Linked DNA regions of Homo sapiens. The protein of the gene in region 2 purifies or fractionates together with the protein of the main gene of each other region. This does not show direct contact. Each region holds a gene or a part of one and is shown on either strand. Other genes may lie near its edges.

Region 1 (11,569 bases), on a different chromosome or scaffold from region 2:
AATGGGTTCTGCATCTGTGGATTCAAACAACTGCAGATTGAAAATATTCGAAAAAATGGCTGGGCCCCGTGGCACACGCCTGTAGTCCCAGCACTTTGGGAGGCTAAGTGGGAGGACAGCTTGAGCCCAGGAGTCTGAGGCTACAGTGAGCTATAATCGCACCACTGCACTCCAGCCTGGGTGGCAGAGCAAGACCCCGTCTCTAAAAAAAATAAAAAGGAAAGAAAATATTCAGTAAAAAATGAATGGTTGCATCTGTACAGAACATGTGCAGACTTTTTTCCTTCTCATTATTCCCTAAATTATACAGAGTAACAACTACTGGCATAGCATTAACATTGTATTAGATATTATAAGTAATCTAGAGATGATTTAAAGTATAAGGGAGGATGTGTATAAGTTATATGCAAGCACTACAACATTTATATCAGGGACTTGAGCATCTGTGGATTTTAGTACCCCAGAAGGTTCCTGGAACCAATCCCCCCTGGATACCAAAGGACAACTGTAGATCCTTTCATGGTAAATAAGATAGTGTCCAGTTTAAAACACAGTCTCTGACGGGGTGGCTTAGCAATTATTCCTGACACACTGATAAAATCTGGAACTGCTGAGCTAGAAGTTAAAACTTGGACCAGTATGACCCCAAGTACAAAGGAAGTATGACCCATACCCAAAAATGGAACCCAGCCTCAATCAGCCAGAGTTACCATTGACATATCTGGAATTTTCAGTAGTTTTGTCCTCTGTTCTATCACTACCTAAGTTAGTCCAAAAGTTCACCCTAAAAGTCACATTAACCCCAGGGCTTTGGGTAATGAAGAAATCACATCTTGAGCCTAGAGAGAATCATAGCATTTCTTAAATAGGCAGCCCCAAAGCAGTTTCCTTTCCCACACTGAAATTACTGGAATGGTTTAGTGGTCCCAGAAACTGGTAAGACTCGTGCCCAGGACAGTTAAAAACCCCAGGATCAACAAAACTTGTACGAAGTAAAAAGAACACAAGCTTGTTCTCTATTCTGATGTTTATTTGTTGTGTTTTGTTTTAGAGACAGGGTCTTGCTCTCTGACCCAGGCTGCAGCGCAGTGGCACTCAATCATGGCCCACTGCAGCTTCGACCTCCTGGGCTCAGTTGCCCAGGTGATCCTCCTGCCTCAGCCTCCTGAGTAGCTGGGACCACAGATGCACAACACCACACCCAGCTAATTTTTTAACTATTTGTAGAGACAAGGTCACACTATGTTGCCCAGGCTGGTCTTGAACTCCTGGACTCAAGTGATCCTCCCTCCTTGGCCTCTCAAAGTGCTGGGATTACAGGTTTGAGCCACCACACCCAGCCTCTATTCCGAAGTTTAAATCACATACCTTGAAAGTCAACTAATAAATGTTCCTAAATAAGTATAAGAATTTAAAAATAAAAGTCATTGCCAAAGAGTTATATTTTGGAACATTGCAAAAATACCTGCTCATAGGTCGATAGTCTATGCCACATCATCTAACTGGATATTAATAGATGAGCAATCACTCACCATATCCTGTACAGTTAACTTCCAATTTTTTAGGAAAGGACACAGGAATACAGGTAAATAAACTGAAACCCAATTCTCATTTTAGCCAACACTTTTTAAATTCCTCCTCCAATGAAATGTATTTTTTATCAGCGCTAACAGGTAACAATTTATTGATCCAAACGTCTTTTCCTTCAACAATCTGATAGTTGTCCAAATGATCATTATGACAACCAAAATTAGAAAACAGCAGGGGAAAAAGAGTGAGAGGGCTTGGAGGGGTGGAATGGGATAGGTAATTCATAAATTGGATAAACAGAGGCCTCAACAAATGCCTATTTGTCATAATCTAAAGATGACTGACCCATTGTCATCTCATTTTTAATACAATGACCAAGTCCCTGAAGCCACCTGGTAAAATGTAAAACGAACTTCTGAAAAGAAATTGAGGATCCAGGATTCTACCATCAACAGTAGTTAATAAAGTTTACAAGCCAGCAGTTACTAGTTCTCATTAAGAATTAACTGATATTTCATAACCTGATCCCCAGTAAGCTTATTAATAAAAAGCAACGGAAATTTCGGGCTGGGCATGGTGGCTCACACCTGTAATCCCAGCACTTTGGAAGGCTGAGGCGGGTGGATCACCTGAGGTCAGGAGTTCAAGACCAGCCTGGCCAACATGGTGAAACCCTGTCTCTACTAAAAATACAAAAATCAGCTGGGCATGGTGGCGGGCGCCTGTAATCCCAGGTACTCGGGAGGCTGAGGCAGGAGAATCACTTGAACCCGGGAGGCAGAGGTTGCAGTGAGCCGAGATTGCACCATTGCACTCCAGCCTGGGCGACAAAGCGAAACTGTCTCAAAAAATAAAAATAAAAAATAAAATAAATAAAAAGCAATGGAAATTTGGAGGAAGAAGTAGTGAATCAGCCTCTCTCTTCCATGTGCTGTATTTTATTGGAATATGAGTAAGTATAAGGGTAATATGAGAAATGGGGGGGGGGGTTCTAGTCACCAAAATGGCATCTGACTCTCCAAATGCAGCAATGCTCACTCCAGTGGGTTGCTTCACTGTGACTCAAGATCTGTCAAATGAGGACATAAGGGAATTTGAATAAAGCCAAGATACACTCCTAAAATAAACCAAATCTTCCAATAGACCTAACAGAAGATGTAACAAGAATCAAGAAGCTAACCTACTCAACATAAATTGATTCTAAAATACTTTTTAAAATGAATTATTGCTAATGCAAAAATTCAGGAAAGAAGTCTAGGAATTTGTTTTCCTAATGGCACATTCCATTTATCTGTTGGTAGAGGTCACTAAAATACATTACTAGGTGTCTATGTATCCCTCCCCTGTTCTCCTTTTATAACCTTATTCTTCAAAAATAAAAGGTAATTAAGTGAAAGCATCAATTAAATATGTCCTTCCTTTCTCAAAATAGATAAATACGAATATAACTGAATCTTTGTTTTATAGTATATGCCCACTACGCTGTACGGCAAACAACCATGGCAAATCCACTGCATTATGAACAAAAGTAAATTGTCGCCCCCAAAATATAACTATCCATTTCGACCCAACCAAAGGGAAAATAATTTTCCCAATCCTCCAATTATATGCCAAAAGAATTAGAAAATACAGGAAAAAAAGATTCATAGAAGCTTGTATAAATGTCAAGTGCCAACATTTCACTAATAACCAAGATTTCCTATTGTACTGACTTTTAATTGTATCAAATCATGAATCTTCTAGGGCACAGAAAACAAAGACTAAATGGTTCTGCCAATTTACAATGATCATATTTCACCTTTAGAAGTGTAATCGCCATGGAAGCAATGAATTCATCGAATTCATCTTTCTCTCTCCACTGATTAAACGGATCCTGCACTACAGGCATAATCGGCTAGTTTCTGCCACCACTCATACATAGGCCTCCAACGCACTCTACAAGCCAGGGCTACACTGCCTAGAAATCCGCACTGTGTCACTGCATAAGGCAGTTTCCCACTGCACACATCCAGAAGAATAAAGTCACCTAAGCACTCTTGTCAGATCTTAGCAAGGCTGCAAAATGACAGGAGTTGCTAACCAAATAGCAGGAAGCAAAAATCACCACCTTTAAAAATCATTTAAGCAGTTTTCCTTTCCGCCATCTCACTTCCCTCCTCCTCCTCCTCGTCATTCTCTCTCTCTCTCTCTCACACACACACACACACACACACACACACGCACGCACGCACGCACGCAATGCAGTTCATCCCCAGCTTTGCAAGTGACATGCTGGGAGCTCTCTCTGGACAGCCGGCCCAGAACTCATTCAGAGCCCTCAAATACAGACATTCTCACCTGAACACGCCAGGCAACTTCCACCCGCACCATCACCTCCACCCTCCCCGACACACACAGACTCGCCCTCGCAAGCTCTACCCATACCAATCCCCCAGCTGCAGAAAGCCCAGTAGGCTCACTGCAAGCGCAGCACGCGTTACCACTTATAAGCCGAGTTGGGCGGCCTAAGCTTCAGAAACCGCCTCTTCACGCAGCCCACCCCCACCACCCCGGCGCGGCTGGACCCCTGGCCCGCCAGGTGGGATGCGCTACCTTTAGACTGGCAATCTGCACAAAACTTGTTATCCTCCTCCAGCAGCAGGTTGGCCAGGACAGCCTGGTACCGATCCACGTCCTTCACCGACTTGCCTGTCATGGCCAGGGTGCCGGCGGGGGCAGAGGGCGACGCGCCCTCCTCGCCCCCAGAGACCCCTGCCTCAGTCCGGGGTTGAGGACTCCCGGTCCCCCGCCCAGGGGCACCTCCTGAGCGGGGAGAGCCCTCTCCTCCGGCCCCGCCGGACGCCCCTTCCCGGGTCGGGGGCGTCCGTCCCCCACTCCGCAGCCCCTCGGCGCGGCGCCCCTTGGCGGGCTTAGGGACAGGCCCGCCTCCAAGAGAGGCTGCGGGGCCAGAGACCCTCAGCCCAGGCAAAGGCGGACCACGAGCCTCCTGGGTGCCGGACGCAGATGACCCTCTGGCCGGCCTGTCTGCTGGCCTTGCGTCCCGCGCCTCGGTTTCCCTGGCAGCTGCCGTCAGCTCCGCTACCACCTCCACCGCCTACTTCCGGCAGCTCTTCCTCCCCACCTCCACCCTGCCCAGCTCGCGCATGCGCCCCGCCCCCACCGCGCCGCACTGGGCTCTTCCTTCAGCTCCGCCTCTCGGGAACCAATCCGTGGAGAAGCGGGGGGCGGGCCTTGGGTGGGGGCGGAGGGAAGGGGTGGGCACGCCCCCTGCGTGTCCTTGGAAGAGAATGAATGGAGCCTGGTAGAAAGGGAGTGGAGGGAATGGAAGAAAGTGAAGGAAGACAACAACTAACATTTACTGAGCTCTTACTATGCGCTAGGCACTGTGTTAAGCGCTTTGCATGAACTATCCCAACATAATCCTCACAACGACCCTATGATCATCCTTATGTAACCTGAGGGTTGTTGATACCCCAAAGTCCTCCAGCTTGTTTTTTCCAACAGCCAAATATAAGAGTCCAAGCCCCTAACCCAGGATATAGGAACGTCACCCCCTCCCCACATTTTCAGAGGACTCTGGTCACCTCTCACTTGGAATACCTGCTCCCACTAATACTCATTAGCTCTCCTCTGTGACTCCTGCCTTTTTGGATATTGTTTGGCCTGGTGCCCAGACAGTTTGTTTCTTCTTCCATTTCTTAAATTCTCACAAAACAGCGAGTTTTTTGTGGCAGACTTTTACTGAACGTTATTTGGGAAGGGTGGGGGACAGTGATTAAAGCATAGCACACAACAGGCAACTCCTTAAAAATGATTATTAAACATCATCATCCAAAGCCACCGTTGCTACAGATAATTTCTCATTGGCTGTCCTTTTCCTTAGGGATCCACCTGCCATCTGGCTTGTGTTTTCATTCACTCATTCATTCATTCATTCACTGAGCACGATGTTACTGAGAAATTTCTAAGTATCAGGCACTGTACTAGGGGAGAGGGAAACAGCATGATCCGATTTGTGGTTTTAAAAGGTCACTCTGGCTGCCATGGAAATAATTAATCAGGGAAGATAGTAAGCAGATGCTAAGAGTTATCTAAACTCTGGTGAAACCCTCTCCTCCATTTCTTTACTTTCTCCCAAGACCAGGATCCCCTCAAAGCTTTCATCTCATCAGAGGAAAACTAAACATTTCTATTACTTTATTAATCACAACAATTAAATTTTCTGGCTAAGCCTCTTCCCTTCTAGCCATGCCTAGGGGACTTGACTTTTAAAAACACACAAGTTCATTGGGGTGTTTTTCCTCAGAAAACCCATCCAAGTAGGTATTACCATAACCATTTTTCAGTTGAAATAGACAGTCAAGATTAACTAGTTACTGGGTGTGGTGGCACATACCTGTAGTCCTAGCTACTCAGGATGCCAGAGCCAGAGCATCACTTGAGCCCAGGAGTTGGAATCCAGCCTGGGCAACACAGTAAGAACCACCCCTCCAACCCCCAATGTACCCCGTTACCCTGTCTCAAACAACAACAACAACAACAAAACCCAGTTAATTGCGGTGAGTGGTGATTGTACCTTAGTTCAAGCCCTCCCCATCTTCATCTCCTCACTCTGCAAATAGCCTTCCTGCCTTAGTCTAAATCTGGTTAAATTAATCCTTCACCGTGCTCTCTAGAGGGAGCTTTTAAATGCCAATTCTGATGGACTCACACTTCCTGCTTAAAAAATCCTTTAGTGGCTCTCCATTGCCTATGGCAGTGTTTCTCAAATTGTTCCCACCTAGTGAGAGATCTCATGGCTTTGTGGTTAAGCACACAGACTCTGGGGCAAGAATGCTTAAGTTTAAATCTTCAGCTTTTACCACCTATTATCTGTGTGACTTTGAGCAGGTTACTTAGCCTCTTGGTGCCTCAGTTATTTCATCTATAGAATGGGAATGATGATAACATTAATAGTACCTATTTCACAAGATTATTATGAGGCTTAGCTGAGATAATGCCTGTAATATAATTAGAACAGCCCTTGGTAGATAGTGAATGATAGACAATTAGCGCTCTTCACTAAATATTTCTGGCGTTTTGCCTTCTGAGCACATGGTAGGATTTTATTTCCTGGCCTTCAAGTGATTGGGAAAGACCAATGAGTTTGAGCAGAAAGGATGGATTACTTTGTCTCTGAAGCATTTATTTGTTGCTTTGAGCCTCTTGTGCTTCTCTTTCCCTCTGGCATGGCAACTATTGATGCTGAAGATGTTGGTTGCTCTATTAGCCTGGATTTCTGTGTAGCTGATAAACAAGAGCTCTCTGCCAGCCCATAGAGGATAACTTAGCATAAGCAAGAAATAAGCATTGTGTTGCCATTGAGTTTTGTTTGTTTACCACTGTATAAGCTAGCCTATCCTAGCAGATACATCAAGTATTAGCTCTTTTTATTATCATTACTAATAGCAGAGTAAAGTGAGTGCATAGCCCAGGGTCTGAGGATATAAACAAAGCAAACTGCTCCTCCCAAGTACACATTTTTTTTTTTGAAGTCTTGAATTTTGCTTTGACTAGTCTTGCAAAAATGTTCACTCTGTTCCATCATGCACATGTTATCTTATCATAAAACTGTTTCCACATTAGTTATAAAATTTTTTTTTTTGAGACCGAGTCTCGCTCTGTCGCCAGGCTGGAGTGCAGTGGTGCGATCTCGGCTCACTGCAACCTCCGCCTCCCAGGTTCAAGCAATTCTCCTGCCTCAGCCTCCCAAGTAGCTAGGACTACAGGCACGTGCCACCACTCCTGGCTAATTTTTTGTATTTTAATAGAGGCAGGGTTTCACCCTGTTAGCCAGGATGGTCTCAATCTCCTGACCTCGTGACCCGCCCACCTCAGCCTCCCAAAGTACTAGGATTACTGGCATGAGCCACCGCGCCTGGCCAGTTATAGAATTTTCTTTTCTTTTTTTTTTTTTTTTATTATACTTTAAGTTTTAGGGTACATGTGCACATTGTGCAGGTTAGTTACATATGTATACATGTGCCATGCTGGTGCGCTGCACCCACTAACTCGTCATCTAGCATTAGGTATATCTCCCAATGCTATCCCTCCCCCCTCCCCCTACCCCACCACAGTCCCCAGAGTGTGATATTCCCCTTCCTGTGTCCATGTGATCTCATTGTTCAATTCCCACCTATGAGTGAGAATATGCGGTGTTTGGTTTTTTGTTCTTGTGATAGTTTACTAAGAATGATGATTTCCAATTTCATCCATGTCCCTACAAAGGACATGAACTCATCATTTTTTATGGCTGCATAGTATTCCATGGTGTATATGTGCCACATTTTCTTAATCCAGTCTATCATTGTTGGACATTTGGGTTGGTTCCAAGTCTTTGCTATTGTGAATAATGCCGCAATAAACATACGTGTGCATGTGTCTTTATAGCAGCATGATTTATAGTCATTTGGGTATATACCCAGTAATGGGATGGCTGGGTCAAATGGTATTTCTAGTTCTAGATCCCTGAGGAATCGCCACACTGACTTCCACAATGGTTGAACTAGTTTACAGTCCCACCAACAATGTAAAAGTGTTCCTATTTCTCCACATCCTCTCCAGCACCTGTTGTTTCCTGACTTTTTAATGATTGCCATTCTAACTGGTGTGAGATGGTATCTCATTGTGGTTTTGATTTGCATTTCTCTGATGGCCAGTGATGATGAGCATTTTTTCATGTGTTTTTTGGCTGCATAAATGTCTTCTTTTGAGAAGTGTCTGTTCATGTCCTTTGCCCACTTTTTGATGGGGTTGTTTGTTTTTTTCTTGTAAATTTGGTTGAGTTCATTGTAGATTCTGGATATTAGCCCTTTGTCAGATGAGTAGGTTGCGAAAATTTTCTCCCATTTTGTAGGTTGCCTGTTCACTCTGATGGTAGTTTCTTTTGCTGTGCAGAAGCTCTTTAGTTTAATTAGATCCCATTTGTCAATTTTGTCTTTTGTTGCCATTGCTTTTGGTGTTTTGGACATGAAGTCCTTGCCCATGCCTATGTTCTGAATGGTAATGCCTAGGTTTTCTTCTAGGGTTTTTATGGTTTTAGGTCTAACGTTTAAATCTTTAATCCATCTTGAATTGATTTTTGTATAAGGTGTAAGGAAGGGATCCAGTTTCAGCTTTCTACATATGGCTAGCCAGTTTTCCCAGCACCATTTATTAAATAGGGAATCCTTTCCCCATTTCTTGTTTTTCTCAGGTTTGTCAAAGATCAGACAGTTGTAGGTATGCGGCGTTATTTCTGAGGGCTCTGTTCTGTTCCATTGATCTATATCTCTGTTTTGGTACCAGTACCATGCTGTTTTGGTTATTGTAGCCTTGTAGTAAAGTTTGAAGTCAGGTAGTGTGATGCCTCCAGCTTTGTTCTTTTGGCTTAGGATTGACTTGGCGATGTGGGCTCTTTTTTGGTTCCATATGAACTTTAAAGTAGTTTTTTCCAATTCTGTGAAGAAAGTCATTGGTAGCTTGATGGGGATGGCATTGAATCTGTAAATTACCTTGGGCAGTATGGCCATTTTCACAATATTGATTCTTCCTACCCATGAGCATGGAATGTTCTTCCATTTGTTTGTATCCTCTTTTATTTCCTTGAGCAGTGGTTTGTAGTTCTCCTTGAAGAGGTCCTTCACATCCCTTGTAAGTTGGATTCCTAGGTATTTTATTCTCTTTGAAGCAATTGTGAATGGGAGTTCACTCATGATTTGGCTCTCTGTTTGTCTGTTGTTGGTGTATAAGAATGCTTGTGATTTTTGTACATTGATTTTGTATCCTGAGACTTTGCTGAAGTTGCTTATCAGCTTAAGGAGATTTTGGGCTGAGACAATGGGGTTTTCTAGATATACAATCATGTCATCTGCAAACAGGGACAATTTGACTTCCTCTTTTCCTAATTGAATACCCTTTATTTCCTTCTCCTGCCTAATTGCCCTGGCCAGAACTTCCAACACTATGTTGAATAGGAGTGGTGAGAGAGGGCATCCCTGTCTTGTGCCAGTTTTCAAAGGGAATGCTTCCAGTTTTTGCCCATTCAGTATGATATTGGCTATGGGTTTGTCATAGATAGCTCTTATTATTTTGAAATACGTCCCATCAATACCTAATTTATTGAGAGTTTTTAGCATGAAGGGTTGTTGAATTTTGTCAAAGGCTTTTTCTGCATCTATTGAGATAATCATGTGGTTTTTGTCTTTGGTTCTGTTTATATGCTGGATTACATTTATTGATTTGCGTATATTGAACCAGCCTTGCATCCCAGGGATGAAGCCCACTTGATCATGGTGGATAAGCTTTTTGATGTGCTGCTGGATTCGGTTTGCCAGTATTTTATTGAGGATTTTTGCATCAATGTTCATCAAGGATATTGGTCTAAAATTCTCTTTTTTTGTTGTGTCTCTGCCCGGCTTTGGTATCAGAATGATGCTGGCCTCATAAAATGAGTTAGGGAGGATTCCCTCTTTTTCTATTGATTGGAATAGTTTCAGAAGGAATGGTACCAGTTCCTCCTTGTACCTCTGGTAGAATTCGGCTGTGAATCCATCTAGTCCTGGACTCTTTTTGGTTGGTAAGCTATTGATTATTGCCACAATTTCAGCTCCTGTTATTGGTCTATTAAGAGATTCAACTTCTTCCTGGTTTAGTCTTGGGAGAGTGTATGTGTCGAGGAATTTATCCATTTCTTCTAGATTTTCTAGTTTATTTGCGTAGAGGTGTTTGTAGTATTCTCTGATGGTAGTTTGTATTTCTGTGGGATCGGTGGTGCTATCCCCTTTATCATTTTTTATTGTGTCTATTTGATTCTTCTCTCTTTTTTTCTTTATTAGTCTTGCTAGCGGTCTATCAATTTTGTTGATCCTTTCAAAAAACCAGCTCCTGGATTCACTGATTTTTTGAAGGGTTTTTTGTGTCTCTATTTTCTTCAGTTCTGCTCTGATTTTAGTTATTTCTTGCCTTCTGCTAGCTTTTGAATGTGTTTGCTCTTGCTTTCTAGTTCTTTTAATTGTGATGTTAGGGTGTCAATTTTGGATCTTTCCTGCTTTCTCTTGTGGGCATTTAGTGCTAAAAATTTCCCTCTACACACTGCTTTGAATGCATCCCAGAGATTCTGGTATGTTGTGTCTTTGTTCTCGTTGGTTTCAAAGAACATCTTTATTTCTGCCTTCATTTCGTTATGTACCCAGTAGTCATTCAGGAGCAGGTTGTTCAGTTTCCATGTAGTTGAGCGGCTTTGAGTGAGATTCTTAATCCTGAGTTCTAGTTTGATTGCACTGTGGTCTGAGAGATAGTTTGTTATAATTTCTGTTCTTTTACATTTGCTGAGGAGAGCTTTACTTCCAAGTATGTGGTCAATTTTGGAATAGGTGTGGTGTGGTGCTGAAAAAAATGTATATTCTGTTGATTTGGGGTGGAGAGTTCTGTAGATGTCTATTAGGTCCGCTTGGTGCAGAGCTGAGTTCAATTCCTGGGTATCCTTGTTGACTTTCTGTCTCGTTGATCTGTCTAATGTTGACAGTGGGGTGTTAAAGTCTCCCATTATTATTGTGTGGGAGTCTAAGTCTCTTTGTAGGTCACTCAGGACTTGCTTTATGAATCTGGGTGCTCCTGTATTGGGTGCATATATATTTAGGATAGTTAGCTCTTCTTGTTGAATTGATCCCTTTACCATTATGTAATGGCCTTCTTTGTCTCTTTTGATCTTTGTTGGTTTAAAGTCTGTTTTATCAGAGACTAGGATTGCAACCCCTGCCTTTTTTTGTTTTCCATTTGCTTGGTAGATCTTCCTCCATCCTTTTATTTTGAGCCTATGTGTGTCTCTGCACGTGAGATGGGTTTCCTGAATACAGCACACTGATGGGTCTTGACTCTTTATCCAATTTGCCAGTCTGTGTCTTTTAATTGGAGCATTTAGTCCATTTACATTTAAAGTTAATATTGTTATGTGTGAATTTGATCCTGTCATTATGATGTTAGCTGGTGATTTTGCTCGTTAGTTGATGCAGTTTCTTCC
Region 2 (10,563 bases):
CCATCCATCCGTCCGTCCATCCATCCATCCATCCATCCATCCATCCATCCATCCATCCATTCAACCATCCATTCAACCATCCATCCATCCATCCATCCATCCATCCATCCATCCATCCAACCATCCATTCAACCATCCATCCATCCATCCATCCATTCCATCCATCCATCCATCCATCCATCCATCCATCCATCCATCTATTCCAAACATCCATCCATCCGTCCATCCATCCATCCATCCATCCATCCAACCATCCATTCAACCATCCATTCAACCATCCATCCATCCATCCATCCATCCATCCATCCATCCATCCTTTCCATCTATCCATCTATCCATCCATCCATCCATCCATCCATCCACCCATCCATCCATCCATCTATTCCAACCATCCATCCATCCATCCATCCATCCATCCATCCACCCATCCATCCATCCATCTATTCCAACCATCCATCCATCCATCCATCCAACCATCCATTCAACAATCCATCCATCCATTCCATCCATCCATCCATTCCATCCATCCATCCATTCCAACCATCCATCCATCCATTCCATCTGTCCATCCATCCGTCCGTCCATCCACCCATCCATCCATCCATTCATCCATCCATCCATTTATTCCAACTATCCATTCATCCATCCATCCATCCATCCATCCAACCGTCCGTCCGTCTGTCCGTCCATCCATCCATCCATCCATCCATCCATCCATCCATCCATCCGTCCATCCATCTATTCCAACCATCCATCCATCTATCCATCCATTCAACCATCCATTCAATTCATCTATACAATCCAATCCATCTATCCACCAACTCACCCATCCACTCATCCAATCCACACATCTGTCAACCCATTTATTTATCTGTCTCTATCTATCTACCTACCTACCTACCTACCTACCTACCTACCTACCTATCTATCTATTTCTACTTACCTAACAATTCATCCATTCAACAAATATTTATTTAGCACCTACTATGTGCCAGGTGCTCGGCAAGGGCCACGCCTGATTTGTTTCAGGGCAGTGCTGACATTTCCTAACCTCCCACACATGCCGGCCCTCTGTGGGGACTGTGGACTCCCCTCTGATGAGTGGATCCTGGTCCCTGTCTTCCAGCAGACAGACACAAGCATTGATTCTGTCAGCCCATGAAGCAGACTGCGGCTGTGCGCTGTGTGTGCGGGCATGTGTTGTATCTTTCCACTCGCTCCCCTAGCCTAGCTCAGTGCTGCCATGCCTGGCACACACAGAGGAGGGGCTCAGAAGATGGGCCTGGCAGCATAGATGCCAAGGCAGGCAGGGACAGGAGAGGAGAATAGGCCAAGAGATGAGGAGGAGGGAGGAAAAGAGAAGAATAAGTAGGAGAAGGAGCACTTGAGAGGAGCAGGGGAGGCGCCCTGGGGACCCAAGCCCTGGTTGAAGTGGGTGTCTTGGGTTTGTGGGTGGTACACTCTGCCACGCTCCTGGCTTTCCTCCAGCCCATGCACCCCTGGCCTCTAGCACTCCCCAGCCCCCAGGGAAAGGAGAGTCTCCCATTCCCCCGGGTGGAGAGTGGGCAGGATCTCCTCTGAGGAGGGGAGTGGGGCACAGCACCCACCAGGAGTACAAAAAGCAGAGGAAGAAGGGGACCGAGACCACCAGCTGCAGCAGTGTCCAGTCCCGCACACCGTAGGCCACTGCAGCTGTCAGGCCATGGCCGAAGCTGAAGCCCAGAGAGTTCAAGGTCATCACCAAGGGTCGGGCCCGTGCCGCCGTCCACTCCATCACTGCAAGGAGACCGAGTGGTTCAGCCCTGGAGCCTGCATGGAGCCCCCCTGCATGGCGCCAGGTCAGAGACCTACGGAGAGTGCCCGTGTTCATCATGACGCCTGCCACGGCAAAGGCCAACAGGAAGCGGAACAGGCAGTACACGGGGAAGGCAGGGGCGAAGGCAGCTGCCGTACCCATCACAGCCATCTGAAGGTAGCTCCAGGTTAGCACCAGCCTGCGCCCAAACCTGCGGCACAAACCAGGAAGAGGCAGGGTCTGTGGCTTGCCACGGCACAGGCCACGGGGCTCTGGAACACCTAGAGCCCACCCTATGCTTGCCCGCTGAGCTGAGGCGGACACTGAAGCGGCACCTGGGTGAAACCTACATTCTCCACCTACGGAACCCTCCGGAGCACAAGGAGAGTCCCGAGGCCAGAGCCAAAGGGAATGGGCTCCAGTCACCAGGAGCACTCAGGTTGCTGCTGAAGGAAGGCGCATGGCCAAGCCAGTTTTAGCAGTGAATGTTTGCTGGGGAGCAGAAATCCTCTACAACCCCCAGAGTAAAGTTGGTGAACTCGAGGTTCAGAGAAGGTTCCAGACCTCCCTACCTGGCACGGCTGCAGGGTGGCTGGTCCGAGACCCACACCCAGCAAGTAGGGCGCTTTCTAGACTTGGTTTTGTGAGGCTGGTTTGGGGCCAGTCGGCCAGGGTCCTAGGAGAGCAGGGGTTGTGAGGGGAACTGGGACCTGCCTGGACTGGGGGTACTCACCTGTCTGAGGCAGGGCCGCACGCAGCAGCTCCCACCAGAATCCCAGCCAGGTAGATGGACTGGGCCATGGGCTTCAGAGCATGAGAGTCACACACGAGGTTCCACTGATGGGAGAGGAGGAGGCTGAGCTCAGGAGGTTGGGAGAGCCCCAGCAGAGAGGCAGAGGAACCGCATGGGAGGGCCCCCAGGGAGCTGGGTGCGGTGGGTGGTCTGGTGACCTCTAGGGTTTTAGAGCAAGACCCTGTGGAACAGTGAGGGCACCCACAGGCATAGTTTGGCCTTTTGAGGAGTATATCCTGCCACCCTCTGCCTGAACTCTTCCATGGCTCCCTATTGCCCAATGGGTCTCTAGCCACATCTGCCCCTCTCTCCTGTCTCTCCACTTGGAAGCAGCCACCCAAGCTGACACCCTCACCCCTCTCCCAGAGGTTGCTTCCCTCCTGTTCTTTATAAAGAGGTTCTTCCCACTTGTTGGGATGAGCTGCCCCTCTCTGCTTGCCTGGCTTTGCCTGGCGCCCCATCTGGGAGGCAGCCTGGGGTAATCCCTTACTCTGTGTGCTTTGGTCTCGGGGAATCCAGTGAATTGTCACTGAGTCCCCCTGCTGCTGAGTTGCCTGGAGTCACGGCTGACAGGTCAGCAGGGCCAGGACAGGGTGAGGCCGGTGAGTGTCCAGGTGCCAGCATTTAGAGGTGCCCGCCCAGGTGCCCCCCGCACCTCCAAGAGCCTGGGCTGGCCCCATTTGTAGACTGATCCCTGCCGCCCACTTCCCTGTGTGTGGCTGACGAGGGGCTGAGAGGCTCGAGAGTGAGTGGGGCCTGGGGAGGTGGGTCCCTCCCAGGACTGGACCTTTGAGTCTGACCCACCGTGATCCATGACTGACCTCCAAGGTGGTGGGACTCGAGTGGCTCTGGGGGAGGCCCTACCTTGGCCACGATTGTGGAGGTGAAGATGCTGCGGTCATAGACCCAGCCATCCACACACGGCTCCGTGTCGGCCTCGCTCCAGCTGGTGGCCGTGGCATTGGGGTCCAAGAGCTGCCACTGTGGCTGGCGGAAGCGGCGGCACTGGTGGGGCCTCTGGTTGGGGCCCGGCGGGATGGAAATAGCCAGGAGGGCCTCAGGACTCAAGCTCCCTAGGATGCTGGCCTGAGCCGTGCTGTTGTCCAGGAGGGGTGCCCAGCAGCGGTGGCTGGGCACGGCGGCCGAGAAGTTCTCCAGCATGCTCTGGGTACACAGCCACATGATGGAGACCATCAGAGCCATCGTCTGGAGAACCTGGAACCTGCCCAGGCCACCCACGAGGTCCAGGAGTTCAGAAAATGCCATGGAACCTACTCAAGGGGCCCAGAAGAGGGGCCCACTTCACAAAGGCTGGCCCAGGGCAAAGAGGCCAGGGCAACGGGCCTGTTTCCCCCACGGTGGTGCCCACAGTGGCTTCTCCAGCCCAGCGGCTAGGCTTCACAGACTCGGGGCCGGAGGCTCAGGCTCTCTGGTCATCTGCCTGCTGGTGTCACTTGGGGTGGCTCCAACTGGGCCCTGAGGCCGCGTGAGGTGATTCCGAGACCTCCAGCATCTCCCCAGAGAGGCAGCTGCTCCAGACCTCCCGGGAAAGCTGAATTTGGAAAGTAGGGAATGTGGAGACTGAAGACTTTAATTTTAGACTGGAATTAAAGTGTGACCGGTGACACTTATGGAATCGAGTTTAGCAATCATTTCCTTGGTCAAAGTTTAACCCGCGTTGAGGCAGGCACAGACGCGAGGGAGGTGCAGCCTCCTCTGCTTGGGGGCCAGGGCCGGCCTGCTCTGTGCCAGGTCTTGGGGAGGCCTAAGTTTTTCTCCTGGCGGCTGTGGGATGCCAGGGCTGCCTGCTCCCTTCGGTGCCCCTGTGTGCCCACCTCCCAGAGTGGCTGAGCCAAGAGAAGGTGGGCCAGGGGATCCCCCTAATTTGGGGCTGGGGCAGCTGTGCAAGTCTCTGTGTGGGCTTGGGTCACTGGCAGCTGCCCAGCCCCTGCGCCTCCCAGGCTGTGTGGCCTGGCCCCACCCGTGGCTCCTGCCTCCACTCACCTGCTGTGGTTGGCGTCCTGTGCCCGCTTTGCTGTTACCCTGTCCTGAGTCCTCGGTGGAGCTTCCCAGCATCAACAGACACCCCACAGACTCCCCAGGTTCGGTGTGCCCAATGCCACCCTGAGATCTCTGTCCCCTCCCCAAATCTATGCCTCCTGCAGAGCCCCACCTCAGCTATGGCCTCTCATGTCACAGTGTCTGGCCTGGAACCCAGCGTCTTGGTTCACGCCTCCTGCTCCCTGCCTCCCAAATCCACCAGGGGCCAAGCCTGGCTAGTTTTGCCTCCTAAGGATTTCTCTCTCCCACCTCCCCCACTCCACAGCTGTCCCTGCCCTTGTCTTTCTGCCTCAACTCCTGCCCCTGGACCCACCACGCACTGCGAGCCCTTGGGTCAAATCCTGCTTAAAAGCCAAGGGGCTCCCAGTCAACAACAGCTAGTGGTGACTTACTAGGGCAGGTGAGTGGACAGCAGTGTGTGCTGATGCAGGGTGTGGGGTTCAGGAAAGGCTGGACCGAGGCCAAGAGAACCCCCTTGGTCTCGATAGCTAATTCTGTAGGCGAAAGGGCCAGAGAACACAAAGCAGTTAAAAAGTGTGTGTGCATGGCCGGGCGTGGTGGCTCATGCCTGTAATCCCAGCACTTTGGGAGGCCGAGGTGGGGGGATCACTTGAGGTCAAGAGTTCAAGACCAGCTTGGCCAACATGGCAAAAACCCATCTCTACTAAAAATACAAAAGTTAGCTGAGCATGGTCGTGGTGCACAGCTGTAATTCCAGCTACTTGGGAGGCTGAGGCAGGAGAATCTCTTGAACCCAGGAGGCAGAGGTTGCAGCAAGCTGAGATTGCACCACTGCCCTCCAGCCTGGTTGACAGAGAAAGACTCTTATCTCAAAAAAAAAAAAAAAAAGAAAAGAAAAAAAAGAAGTGTATGTATATGTGGGTGTGTGCACATGTCTGTGTATGTGTGCACATGTGTTTGCACAAGTGCATGTGTGTACATGTGTGCATGCGTATATGTGCAGTGCAGCAGTGATGGCAACCCAGGTGTTTGCTCTTATGAGCTTTGGGCATAAAACTCTCCATTTGAGGCATAAATGCCCCTCCCATCTGCTTCTTTTTGCTTCACCGACTCTTCCCGCTGCCCCTCCACATGGCTTACCAAGCCAACTTCTTTGCCTCCCTGGGCTCTGCACCTTGAGTCATCCACTGCTTCCACCACATGCCCTGTACATGCTTTCTCAGTTCCCACCCTTGCTTATGTTGGACCTCCAGCCTGGAATGCTGTCTCCAGGCTCACCCTTAGGCCACATACTGTGTGGAATGGGCACAGTCCAAATACTCCTCCTCCAGCGGGCTCTCTTCACTTATTCCTGCCTACAACTAGGGCTCAGAGTTGTCAGTGGAATCTCATCTTTACACTGTCCTGCATTCTTCTCAAACTCCTGACCTCAGGTGATCTGCCTGCCTTGGCCTCCCAAAGTGGTGTGAGTTGCGGCACCCAGCCATGACCTGCATTCTTCTATTATGGTCCAGTTGGTCTTATTTCCAGTGAGCTCCTGGTAGTCTGGAACCCTTCTTTAGAGGCTCTTTGGAACTGATTTGGACAACAAATAAAGGTTCCATGGAGACTTGCTGAAGTGCATGGATGATTTTTTTAAAAATTTCATTTATTTTCTAATTATGAAATAATTTACACACTTCCTCAAAAATTCAGAACATATTGAAATGAAAATAAAGATCCCTCATATACTCATCAACCAGTGAGTTACACTACTGTTTACAGTTTGGTGTAAATATGTGCAGACTTTGTTTTAGTAACTGATATGTTTAGCTTCATCAGCTTGAGCTGCCAAATAAGCTTTACATTTCCTTTTGTAAAATCCAAAAGAAATACCTCTGCCTTTTAATTAGCGATTTTAACCTGTTCACATTTATTGTAATTATTGACATGTTTGGACTTACTGTATGTTTTCTTGTTTACCACATTTTCCCTTTAAATCTTGGTTTCCTTGTTCCTAATTTCTACTGAATCCATTAAGTTTTCTTGTTATATTCTTCTACTGTCTTGGTCTGTCAGTTGTACGTTTTATTTCTGTTACCCTTATATTTGAACACACAAACCAGGGGTTATTTGATACCATCTTCTCTCTTCAAACCTACCACCTTCTCTTCTATCCTCTCTCTCAATAGATGACCTTTTTTCTTATTTCACTAAAACAATAGAAGCCATCAGAAGCCAACAGTCTAATTCTCTCACCAGCTCACCTGCCTTGGTGCCCCCACATTCTGCCTTCCTTCCACCCAGTTTGGTTTCTCTCTCATCCATGCCAACCCCTCACTGTGTGCCTAGAGCCCACCCCCCTTTGCCTGCTCACATCTCTCTTTGGCATTTGTCTTTCCCTCGCTACTGGATAATTTCCACCAATGTACAAATATGCCATTTTTTTCTGTAGCCTTCCAAAAACTCCCCCTCCATTTGAGCCCCTCTTTCTTCTTAAGCGACTGCCCCACCTTTGCTTGTATTTACAACAAAATTCTATGAAAGTATTATTGACACTCATTTCCAGTTTCTGTCTTCCCATTTTTTTGTTTGTTTTTGGATTCATTCCCATCAAGGTTTTGCCCCTATCACTCTGCTGTCACCAATGACCTCCATGCTGCTAGATTCAATGACATTTTCAGTCCTCATCTTACTTGAGCCATCTGTCTCTGATCTCCATCTGAGAATACTTTCTTCCCTGGGCCTCCAGGACTCACTAGTTCTCAATCTTCTTGGTTGGGTTTTCCTCTTCTCCACACACTGTTAACATTGGAGGCCACTGAGCTCACTCCTTGGTCTTCTCTATATTCTCTATCATCTGGTCCATTCACATCTTTAGCCTGTACCTCTTCTTGGAATGCTAGATTTTGATCCAACTGCCTAATCTTAGGTGCTTAATAAACATCTCACACTTAGTGTGGCCAAAGCTGAGCTCTCCCAAAAAAATGCTTCTCATGCAGCTTTCTCCACTTTTTTTTTTTTAAGTTGAGTCAGAGTCTTGCTCTGTTGCCCAGGCTGGAGTGCAGTGGCGCCATCTTGGCCCATTGCAGTCTCCACTGCCCAGGTTCAAGCAATTCTCATGCCTCAGCCTCCTAAGTAGCTGGGTCTATAGGCATGTGCCACCATGCCCAGCTAATTTTTGTATTTTTAATATCGATGGGGTTTCACCATGTTGGCCAGGCTGGTCTCGAACTCCTGGCCTCAACTGATCTGCCCACCTCGGCCTCCCAAAGTACTGGGATTATAGGCATGAGCCACTGCACCCAGCCCCAAATCACCAGCATTTTAATTTCAGAATGTGTAATTTCCATTTCAGAATCCGTGTTTGGTTCTTCCTATAACTGCTTCTTCTTGTTTCCTAGTTTCCACTTCTTGTTTCATAGGTGGAATAATTTCCTTGATCTCTTAGTGGATATTACGAGTGTTTCTCTTGGGCCAGGCGTGGTGGCTCACGGCCGGAATCCCAGCACTTTGGGAGGCCGAGGCGAGTGGATCACTTGAGGTCAGGAGTTTGAGACCAGCCTGGCCAACATGGGGAAACCCTGCCTCTAGTAAAAATACAAAAATTAGCCAGAGGTGGTGGCACACACCTGTAATCCCAGCTACCAGGGTTGCTGAGGCAGGAGAATTGCTTGAATCCATGAGGCGGAGGTTGCAGTGGAGCCAAGATCACGCCACTGCACTCCAGCCTGGGTGACAGAGCAAGATTCTGTCTCAAAAAAAAAAAAAAAAAAAAAAGAAGAGTGTCTTTCTTCTTAATATCAATATTCATTTGTTGAGCTGAGTGTTGATAATGCACCAGCCACTGCTCTAGGCACAGGGATGCAGCGGTGAACAAACAAGATAATTCCCTGTTCTCATTGATATGTAGAAAGACATGCCAATGAGAGAGGAGAAACACATCAAGAAATAAATGAATATAGTGACAAGTAGTAATCATGCTGTGGAGAGAACAAGATAGCATAAGGGGCAGAGAGTAAGGATCATGTTGCCACTTTGGGTGGGGCAGTCAGGGAAGACTTCTCTGTGGAGGTGGCATTGAAAGAGACCCAAGTAGATGAGGGGACAAGACACACAGTTGACTGGGGAAAGAATATTGCAGGCAGAGGGAAGAGTATTATGCAAAGACCCTGGGGTGGGCATGTGATTTTATGCTCAAGAAGTAGGAAGGAGGCCAGTATGGTTGGGGAGAAGTGAGTGGGAAAAGTAGAGCAGTTTTGGGGCCAAAACATACACTTCCTTATAGGGTTTTGAGGAGAGAAGTGGCATGATCTGACTAATGTTTTTACAAATCTCCCTGGCTGCTGTGTGGAGAACAGACTGAAAATGGGACAAATATAGAAGAAGGGGTTCCCCCAGGAGGCTGTTGGGGTGGATCATGTGAGCAATGAGGGTCAGGGCTAGGGGATTAGGGCAGGTGGAGAGAAATGCTTGGGTTTGGGGCATATTGCTTTTCTTTGACTAAATACAGGGCCGAGGGTGAAGAAAAAGGATAAACTGATGATCAGGTGGGTGGTGGGTGGATGGTGGGCCATTTACAGAGAAGCAGAACACTCGGGGAGAAGCAAGTTTGATGGGAAAATAAATCTTTTTTTGTGTGATGATATTGACATGTCTATTAGCCATCCAGGTGGTGGCATCATGGAGCGACTTGGGAATAATTAGGGGATAAAAGGCATTTTAAGTCACAGGACTGGATAAGCTCACGTAGGGTGCAAGCTTTCATAGCAAAGAGATGACGTTTGTGATGGAGCCTTTGGTCTCTGATGTTGAGAGGTCAGTAAGAGGATGACCCAGCAAAAGAGCTGTGAAGGCAAAACCAGTGAGGCCTGGAAACCAGGACAGCAGGATGCCCCGGAAGCCAGAGTGAAAAGTATCTGACAGAGTCAATCAGCAATGTCACATCCTTGGCCGGGCGCGGTGGCTCACGCCTGTAATCCCAGCACTTTGGGAGGCTGAGGCAGGTGAATCACCTGAGGTCAGAAGTTCGAGACCAGCCTGGCCAACATGGTGAAACCCTGTCTCTACTAAAAATACAAAAAATTAGCCAGGCATGGTGGCACATGCCTGTAATCCCAGCTACTCAGGAGGCTGAGGCAGGAGAATTTCTTGGACCTGGGAGGCAGACGTTGTGGTGAGCCGAGATCACGTCATTGCACTCCAGCCTGGGCAACAAGAGTGAAACTCCATCTCAAAAACAAGGAAACAAAAAAGTCTCATCCTGCTGAGAGGTGGGGTGGGATAAGGTCTAGAATTAGCCCCTGGATTTGGCAGCATGGACTTCTCTGAGGGCCCTGGCTTGAGGGTTTACCGTGGAGGGGTGAGGTGAAGTGCACAGAGGCACAGGACTGTGAGAGTGCTGGAGGCAGGGAAGTGAAGTCGGTGAAGACAGGCAGCTCACCTACGGAGTTTCACTCTAAGGAGAAGCAGGAAAATGGGGATGTGGTTCGCATTAATTAGAGTAACGCTGGCTGCTGTGGCAAGCCAACCTCGAAATGTATAGCAGCTCAAACACAGTAGAAGTTTATTTATTGATTGTGTAAAGTCCCAAATGGCTGTTGCTGACTGTGGGCAGCTCTCCTCCAAGAGGTGTCTGGGAACGCAGGCTCTCCCCATCTCGCAGCTCTGTCCTTGGCATCCACGCTGGCTGTGCTCGTGTGCATCCAGCCACAGAGGGGAAGAGAGGATGAAGCATCCACCTGCGTTTACAAATTTTTTTTATTATTATTTTTTTGAGATGGAGTCTTGCCCTGTCACCAGTGAGCAATCTCAGCTCACTGCAACTTCCGCCTCCCAGGTTCAAGTGATTTTCCTGCCTCAGCCTCTGGAGTAGCTGGGATTACAGGTGCGCATCACCACGCCCGGCTAATTTTTGTATTTTTAGTAGAGACGGGTTTTTGCCATGTTGGCCAGGCTGATCCCAGACTCCTGA

What was found.
Region 1: the proteins of SLC22A12 (region 2) and SMAP2 purify together in Homo sapiens (affinity purification with mass spectrometry; 2 studies listed by BioGRID and IntAct, with this or other methods). This does not show direct contact.

What each region holds. Positions count from the first base shown.
Region 1 is NC_000001.11:40,366,777-40,378,345, reverse strand, and holds the start of SMAP2 (stromal membrane-associated protein 2), read right to left. Parts: upstream 4,620-11,569; 5' UTR 4,226-4,619; coding exon 4,123-4,225; intron 3,714-4,122; exon of another isoform or gene 3,651-3,713; coding exon of another isoform or gene 3,638-3,650; intron 2,600-3,637; exon of another isoform or gene 2,530-2,599; intron 1-2,529.
Region 2 is NC_000011.10:64,584,848-64,595,410, reverse strand, and holds the start of SLC22A12 (solute carrier family 22 member 12), read right to left. Parts: upstream 4,192-10,563; 5' UTR 3,855-4,191; coding exon 3,453-3,854; intron 2,633-3,452; coding exon 2,529-2,632; intron 2,007-2,528; coding exon 1,852-2,006; coding exon of another isoform or gene 1,777-1,851; coding exon 1,608-1,776; intron 1-1,607. UniProt on the Homo sapiens protein: Electroneutral antiporter that translocates urate across the apical membrane of proximal tubular cells in exchange for monovalent organic or inorganic anions. Involved in renal reabsorption of urate and helps maintaining blood levels of uric acid.